2 separate regions of the Homo sapiens genome follow, and region 1 is linked to region 2. Evidence: fine-mapped expression QTL. A gene starts in region 2. The other region holds a variant in brackets. All regions are shown on one strand. Distances are between the middles of the regions.

Region 1 (4,388 bases), 38 kb after region 2:
TTTTCTCATGTGTTTATGGTGTTAATTCTTACTGCTGCATAGGGTTTCATTGTGTGGATATGCCTAAATTTTTTTTTTTTTTTTTTAGTGAAAGCAAGTTTATTAAGAAAGTGAAAGAATAAAGCATAGCTACTCTGTAGGCAGAGCGGCCTATGCCTAAATTTGTATATTTCCATTCTATTGAACATTTGGATAGTTTCAAGTTTGGGGGTTACAAATATTGGCTACTGACTTTTGCCTCAAAAACAAAAAAAAAAGAGACTTGGAGATGCATTTTTTTGGGGGGTTTGTTTGTTTGAGACAGGATCTTACTCTGTCACCCACGCTAGAGGGCATTGGTGTGATCACAGTTCACTGCATCCTCGACCTCCCCAGGCTCAGGTGATCTTCCCACCTCAGCTTCCCGAGTAGCTGGGAATATAGGAGCACACCACCACACCTGGCTAATTTTTTTTTTTTTTTTTTTTTTTAGACAGAGTCTCACTCTGTCACCAGGCTGGAGTGCAGTGGCGCGATCTTGGCTCACTGCAACCTCCGCCTCTTAGGTTCAAGCAATTCTCATGCCTTAGCCTCCCAAATAGCTGGGATTACAGGCACACGCCACCACACCCAGCTAATTTTTGTATTTTTAGTAGAGACGGGATTTCACCATGTTGGCCAGAATGGTCTTGATCTCCTGACCTCATGATCTGCCCGCCTCGACCTCCCAAAGTGCTGGGATTACAGGCGTGAGCCACTGTGCCTAGCCATTTTTGTATTTATTTTAGTGGAGATGGGTTTTCTCCATGTTGCTCAGACTGGTCTCAAACTCCTGGGCTCAAGTGATCCACTCTCCTCAGCCTCCCACAGTGCTGGGATTTCAGGTGTGAGCCATTGCACCCAGCCTGAGAGGCAGTTCTTTGTAAAGTTTTTATAAATGTTCTGAATGTGTGAAGGAAATTAATTTCCAATGCACAAATATATATATATATTTGTGTATATATTTAAATATATATATTTAAAAATTCCGACTGAGCACCTGTAATCCTAGCACTTTGGAAGGCTGAGGCAGGAGGATTGCTTGAGGCCAGGATTTTGTGACAAGACCAGCCTGGGCAGCAGTAAGCCCCTGTCTCTGTTTGTTGTTGTTGTTGTTGTTGTTGTTTTGAGACAGAGTCTCACTCTCTCACCCAGGCTGGAGTGCAGCAGCACGATCTCGGCTCACTGCAACCTCCAACTCCCAAGTTCAAGCGATTCTCCTGCCTCAGCCTCTCGGACCCTGTCTCTATTTTTTTTTAAATAAAGAAATAAAAATTCTGTGTAACTTCATAAATCTGTGTTTTGTGCACTTTTCTGAGAGGAGCCATGATTTCCATGAGATCCTCAAGTCCACCCTCCATAGATGGTTATGAACGCCCCTTCTAAAATTCTATGAGTTATTCTGCCTCCAACCTCACATTAATATTCTCAGTAAGTATATTGCATATTTTTGCAGATTTTTAAGAAATGTGTAACAAAGTCATTTGACACATATTTTTTGAATATTTGCCTCAATTGCCTCAATTTTCCATCCTGCAGGACATCCCTCCGCTTGAGTAACAGAGTAATAATAATGCCTTACACTGATACAGGTTTTCAGTGTATAATGCTCTTTCAGCACTGATTTGATGCTCTCAACTGCAGACAACACATCACTTATACAAGACAGATTTAGAGCTCCCAAGAC[ATT/A]GAGTGGATTGAAAAACCAAATTCATCTTGAAGGAGCAGCCGAAGCATTTGAATTGAGAATTTCTCCCCTCCCTGGCACTGGGCCAATATTGCTACACCATGCGACAGCAGAAGGGTAGAAGTAGATTCCTAATTGTTTCTAGGATCGATTTAAGTTCCCTGCTTTTCTGCAACCTCTTATTACAAACCTCCAAATCCACGGCCTTACATGCTGTTTAGAGAAGCCTATTTGTCTGCTGTATTTACCAGCAGCCTGCCTGACTCACTTCTATTTGGCCTGGCCCACCAAATCCAGGGGGCCCCAAATCATCCTTGTTTCTCCCCAAAAATACTCATCCTCTCCCAAGCCCCAACCAGCACCCTTCAGACACCACTGGGACTCAGCACATCTTCGGCTGCTTCACTTTACTGATCACTTTTTAAAAAGGCATTGCTCATCCGTTCCTGAGAGCCCTGAAATCCTCGGCTGGGCTGGAGCCCTTGGTGTCTCCTGCCCTGTGTTCTGGCGTAGGCCGTGGGGAGAGCCTGCTTGAGTTGTGCACATTCACAGGAACTCTACAGGGCTGTGGTCCTGGGGGACAAGGCTGTTTCCCTCCATGCTCATGGCAGTGGAGTTTTCTGGAGAGAGGAGTGGAGGAGGACAGCTGAGTCTCGTCCAGCAGTGGGCTAAGAGGCAGTGATAAGCTCCAAGTGGGGAAAGGAAAGGGCTATGGCAACTTCCGGGATGACACTAGGTCTAAGGTACTGGGTCTGAAAGTGCTTCATGGACCTTTTTTTTTTTTTTTTTTTGAGATGAAGTCTTGCCCTGTCGCCCAGGCTGGAGTTCAGTGGCGCAATCTCACTCACTGCAACCTCCACCTCCCAGGTTCAAGCAATTCTCCTGCCTCAGCCTCCCGAGTAGCTGGGACTACAGGTGCCCGCCACCATGCCCAGCTAATTTTTGTATTTTTAGTAGAGACTGGGTTTCACCATGTTGGCCAGGCTGGTCTTGAACCCCTGACCTCAAGTGATCCGACAGCCTCAGTCTCCCAAAGTGCTGGGATTACAGGTGTGAACCACCGTGCCCGGACTACGGACCATTATTTTGTGTGTTAAGGTTACAATGGCCCAAGTAAGGTTTTGGTTTTTGTAGAGTCTTTTATGATAGTTTTTGTTATCAGGCATTTATGCATAAGAACCCTCTCTTCATGGTCTTCTGGCTTTGTTTATTTGTTTTGTTTTTTGAGACGGAGTCTTGCTCTGTTGCAGGCTAGAATGCAGTGGTGTGATCTCGGCTCACTGCAACTTCTGCCTCCCAGGTTCAAGTGATTCTCCTGCCTCAGCCTCCCTAGTAGCTGGGACTACAGGCACATGCCACCATGCCCGGCTAATTTTTGTATTTTTAGTAGAGATGGGGTTTCACCATGTTGGCCAGGCTGGTCTCGAACTCCTGACCTGAGGTGATCCACCCACCTCGGCCTCCCAAAGTGCTGGGATTACAGGCGCGAGCCACCGCACCCTTCCTGTCATCCTTCAGCAATCCCTGTTGGCCATACTTGATGTTCAGCTTGAACTCATCATAGAATTTCAGGGTCAAAACATGTCTTTTTTTTTTTTTTTTTTTTGAGATGGAGTTTTGCTCTTGTTGCCCAGGCTGGAGTGCAATGGCGTGATCTCTGCTCACCAGAACCTCCGCCTCCCAGGTTCAAGTGATTCTCCTGCCTCAGCCTCCCGAGTAGCTGGGATTACAGGCATGTGCCACCACGCCTGGCTAATTTTGTATTTTTAGTAGAGATGGGATTTCTCCATGTTGGTCAGGCTGGTCTCAAACTCCTGACCTCACGTGGTGCGCCTGCCTCAGCTTCCCAAAGTGCTGGGATTACAAGCATGAGCCACCACGCCCAGCCTCAGAACATATCTTAAAAGTCATTTTACTGCCAGGTGCGGTGGCTCACGCCTTTAATCCTAGCACTTTGGGAGGCCAAGGCAGGCAGATTACCTGAGGTCAGGAGTTTGAGACCGGCCTGGCCAACATGGTGAAACCCTGTCTCTACTAAAAAAAAAAAAAAAATACAAAAATTAGCCGGGCGTGGTGGCACATGCCTGTAATCCCAGCTACTCAGGAGGCTGAGGCAGGAGAATTGCTTGAGCCCGGGAGGCAGGGGTTGCAGTGAGCCGAGATCGTGCCACTGCACTCCAGCCTGGCCGACAGAGCAAGACCCTGTCTCAAAAAAAATAAATAAATAAAAAGTCATTTTACTTGAATGTCTTCTGTAACAGTCAACCTTTATTTGAATACCTTCAGTGATAAAAAAAAAAAAAAAACCTCACCAGTCACTCAAGTAATTACGTTTCAGAAAGTTTTAAGTATTTATTTTATATATATAGGGAGATATATACATATATATTATACATAGGGAGATATATATATATTAGGTATATATATTTAAGATACACACTCACATATATATCTCAACTTTGCTTTCCCTTGTCTTAACCTCATTAATTATGCCTTTGGTACACCAGAGAATAATTTATCTTATTTATTTATTTTTGAGACAGGATCTCACTCTGTTACCCAGGATGGAGTGCAGTGGCACAATCTTGGCTCACTGCAACGCTGACCTCCCAGCTCAAACAGTCCTCCTGCCTCAGCCCCCGAGTAGCTGGGACCATAGGTGCACGCCACTGCACCCAGCTCA
Region 2 (4,388 bases):
TCGGGGCTGCTCTGCCAATGGAGTAGCCATTCTTTATCCTTTACTTTCTTAATAAACTTGTTTTCACTTTATGGATTCCCCGCAAGGTGCCAGGTCCAAGAACCCTCTCTTGAGGTCTGGATCAGAACCCCTTTCTGGTAACAAAAGGATCTTGTCGCTGGCGTGACAGGGCATGGGTGCAGACTAGAGCACTGGGAAAGGCATATTAGGAGCAGTTTTTTCTTTTCTTTTTCTTTCTTTTTTTTTTTTTTTTTGAGATGGAGTTTTCGCGCTTGTTGCCCAGGCTGGAGTGCAATGGCTCGATCTTGGCTCACTGCAACTTCCATCTCCCAGGTTCAAGCGATTCTCCTGCCTCAGCCTCCGGAGTAGCTGAGATTACAAGCATGCACCCCCACACCTGGCTAATTTTTTGTATTTTAGTAGAGATGGGGTTTCACCATGTTGGTCAGGCTGATCTTGAATTCCGACCTCAGGTGATCCACCTGCCTCAGCCTCCCAAAGTGCTGGGATTACAGGTGCGAGCCACCGCGCCTGGCCTTTTTTTTTTCTTTTTTTAAGACAGGGTGTCACTTTGCCACCCAGGCCGGAGTATAGTGGCATGATCTCAGTTCATTGCAACCTCCACCTCCAGGGACTCAAGCGATCCTCCTACTTAGCCTCCTGAGTAGCTGGGATTATGGGTACTTGTCATGACACTCAGCTAATTTTTGCATTTTTAGTAGAGACTGAGTTTTGCCATGTTGCCCAGGCTTGTCTGGAAATCCTGAGCTCAAGCAATCAGCCCGCTTCAGCCTCCCAAAGTGCTAGGATTATAGGTGTGAACCACCACACCCAGCCAAGAGTAGGATTTTAAACACCAGAACCCCTTGAGGACTAAGCTCTGATTTTTTTTACCTTGCCCAAATTCCTACCTAAGAGGTCTGGAGAGTCATGCCCTACAAACCATAAATTCTCATCAGATGGGTTTTATTTAACCCTATATATCATGACTTACTTTCCAATCTGACTCTGGCATAATATTATGTGACTAAGAAGAAAGTCAAAAGATTTTACCCCAAAACATTTTTCTTTGCCATATCTTGAAATGGCCCTGCAAATCTGTCTTTTGTGGGGGAAAATTTGCATCTGTAAAGAATCTCTATTACCGGCCGGGCGTGGCGGATCACGCCTGTAATCCCAGCACTTTGGGAGGCCGAGGCAGGTGGATCAGGAGTTCAAGACCAGCCTGGCCAACATGGTGAGACCCCCCCCATCTCTACTAGAAATACAAAATTTAGCCAGGCGTGGTGGCAGGCACCTGTAGTCCCAGCTACTTGGGAGGCTGAGGCAGAGAACTGATTGAATCCGGGAGGTGGAGGTTGCAGTGAGCCGAGATCGCACCACTGCACTCCAGCCTGGGCGACAGAGCAAGACTCCGTCTCAAAAAAAAACAAAAATCTCTATTAACATAGATAGATATTTTTCCCGTTTCCTGCCCCACCCTCTCCCCTCCTCCCGGCTTTGAGTTGTCCTACCTTTCTGGACCAAACCAATGTATTTCTTAAATGTATTTGATTGATGTCTCGTGTCTTTCTAAAATGCTGCGCCCCGACCACTTTGGGCACATGTTCTCAGGACCTCCTGAGGGCTGTGTCACGGGCCATGGTCACAAATATTTGGCTCAGAATAAATCCCTTCAAATATTTTAGAGTGTGACTCTTCGTCAACACCCTCTTCAAACAAACCTAGGGATGGTCTTTCTGCCTGGATGCCTCAGCTGCGACCAGAAAGTCCACAAAGGAGCAGTGAAGCAGGGCTTGGTGCAGAGGCCATGCGGAAGGCACGGATTTTTGGAGACTGGAGAACCCAAGCGCAAATCCCTACCCCACTGCTCACCAGCAGGTTCTTAAGCAAATCACTCTGCTTCGCTGAATTTACTGTCCTCAGCTATAAAATGGTGTCCTCGGCAACTGGAGCTAGATGCCTTCGCCACTTTGCTGAAAGATATGAACTGTGCCCAAGGTGGGCGGTATCAGATAGGAGCCCCGAAGTGGAAACGTCCAGCGTGGGAATCTCCTCTCTACAGGGTCCCCAAGGAACTCCCGGCAGGCCCACTTCAGGGCTCCTTTCTGACACCGCCCAGCTCAACCTCTCAAAACGATTCACAAAATGCTGTAATAGCCACGATGCACCCTCACTGCACTGTCCCATCCGCCCCTTTTACAAATAGGAAGACCCAAAGATAAAAATAAGAAACCAAGGCCAGGCGCGGTGGTTCACGCCTGTAATCCCAATACTTTGGGATGCGGAGGAGGGCGGATCACCTGAGGTCGGGAGTTCGAGACCAGCCTGGCCAACATGGTGAAGCCCTGTCTCTACTAAAAATACAAAAAATTAGCCGGGCGTGGTGAAGGGCGCCTGTAATCCGAGCTACTCGGGAGGCTGAAGCAGGAGAATCGCTTGAACCCAGGAGGCGGATATTGCAGTGAGCCGAGATCATGCCATTGCACTCCAGCCTGGGCGACAGAGTGAGACTCCTTCTCAAAAAAATAGAAAAAAGAAACCCAAAAAGGCGGGGGAGAGTGAGGAAGAAAAGAAAAAAAAAACTGGAAGGCCTGGGCCGTGATTTGCCAGGGCCACGGCGTGGCCACCAAAGCGCTCCAGGACGACTCGGCAGAGCGCGGGCACCGTGGCTCAGGCGCGCTCCCCGGGGGCGGGGCGAGCAGGAGGGGTCACGTGACGCCCGGCCCGGAAGCGCTCGCGCAGGAGACCCCGGGTGACGGGGCCCGGCGCCGCTAACTGGAGCGAACCCCAGCGTCCGCCGACATGGCCTGGACCAAGTACCAGCTGTTCCTGGCCGGGCTCATGCTTGTTACCGGCTCCATCAACACGCTCTCGGCAAAGTGAGTCTGGGCCCTGCCGGGCGTGCGGGCCCTGGCGACCCCGGCGCTCGTTCTACGCCTTCCCCCTTCTTGGCCCTGCCCTCCTGGCTTCCCCTGCTTTCCCACTTGCTCCGGTCAGTTCGCGCGCGTTATGACCACCCAAGGGATGCGAGGCCCGGGGAAATGCGGAGCGGGGCTGCGCCCCGGACGGGGGGATCCGAGCCCCGGCTTTGATTTGCTGTACAGCCTCCGCTCCTGTTTCCACGTCTTTTAACAGGAGGGTTGGCCGATTCCTTTCCACGGCCCTTCCAGTGCTGGCGTCCAAGCCTGAGCACCTCCCTCCACGAGCTGGGAGAGACCCCTGGACTTGTGCACATGAGCCGCAGTAGTGGCTGTGCAGGCCGAGTGACCCAGTGAGCGTGGAGGCCTCAAGCGGCAGACAGGGAGGTGCCCCACGGCCCCTCAAGGATGAGGGGTTAGAGCTGTGCTTTGAAGCTTAGGTGGGATTTCGGAATGTGTCTGAGACTGTAAGTCAAGGAAAGTCTACGGAAAGGCCAGATCAAAGTCGATTGTAACCAGCATCAAATGCCCAGGTTAGATTTTCTCTCATAATCAGAAAAGTGCTTTTGAGCTGGGGAATGACATGTTGAAAGTGATATGATTGACTCAATGACATGAGGAGTGGTTTGGTGCAGGAAAAACCACTCCAAGGCTGCTGCATAGCAGATGAGGGGAACTAGGAGGTGGCAGTGAGAAGAGAAAGGAAGGGACAACTGGTGGCAGAGACCAGGTGTGAATGGCCACAGGCCTGACCCACATGAGCAAGAAACAAGGATCACTCCAGGGTTTCTGCCTGGGAGAAGAAAAGTGCCATTAACTCAGACAGAGAGGGCAAGTGGCCAGTTCAGCTCTGATGTATGGGGGTGAGAGGGGGGACAGTTCCCAGGAGGTTAGGGACTAAGGACCCAGGCAGTCATGAGACTGAGGGACAGGGCCTAGCCTCCCCTCTGTTGTGGGCAGGATGGCATTTCTTTGTCTCTCTCTGTCTCCATCTCAGGGCAGGGCCTTCCTGCCCCTCCTTTTCTTGTTGCCCAGGCTGGAGTGCAATGGCACGATCCCATGTATAAGGTACCTACGGTGTGTAAGGGAAGGGGACAGAAGTGACCAAGAGGCGATCTCTGCCTTTGAGATGCTTGGAATCTGAGGTGGAGGAGACAGACGTGTACGCACACGACAGTCACAGTGTTCTCCCTTCCCCAAACGGTGGGCACAGTCAGTGGAGTCCTGGGTGGGCCCCACCTGTTCCTCTGGTTCACCTCTGGCCAACTGTGCCTTGTGGAGAACTACTAGCTTCCCAGGCCCTGCATCCTCCTGAGGATCACTCCTCATGCTGAATCCTTAGCTGTTCAGAGGCCCCAGCCTGAGGGCTCCCATCTCAGGATCTGAACACAGCAAAGCAAGTCTTCTGTTCTGTCATGCCAGCCAGGGCCTCTGTCAAGTGCTTAGAGAGCGGTTGTAAGTCCACCA

What was found. PIP is the estimated chance that this variant, and not a neighbour inherited with it, causes the effect.
Region 1: its variant is the best candidate, but not a certain one, in a credible set for the expression of SLC35F6 in blood mononuclear cells (TOPMed, PIP 0.62).

The regions. Positions count from the first base shown.
Region 1 is chr2:26,799,756-26,804,143 of GRCh38, forward strand. No RefSeq gene overlaps it. Among named protein-coding and RNA genes, the nearest start is that of CENPA, 16 kb to the left of the region's middle. The variant ATT/A (reference allele first, on the strand shown) is at 1,706.
Region 2 is chr2:26,761,545-26,765,932 of GRCh38, forward strand. It overlaps SLC35F6 (solute carrier family 35 member F6), which reads left to right and starts at 2,740. Exons shown (of 6, transcript NM_017877.4): 1 at 2,740-2,882. The coding sequence starts at 2,806. RefSeq lists an enhancer at 2,397-2,596 and a silencer at 2,607-2,916.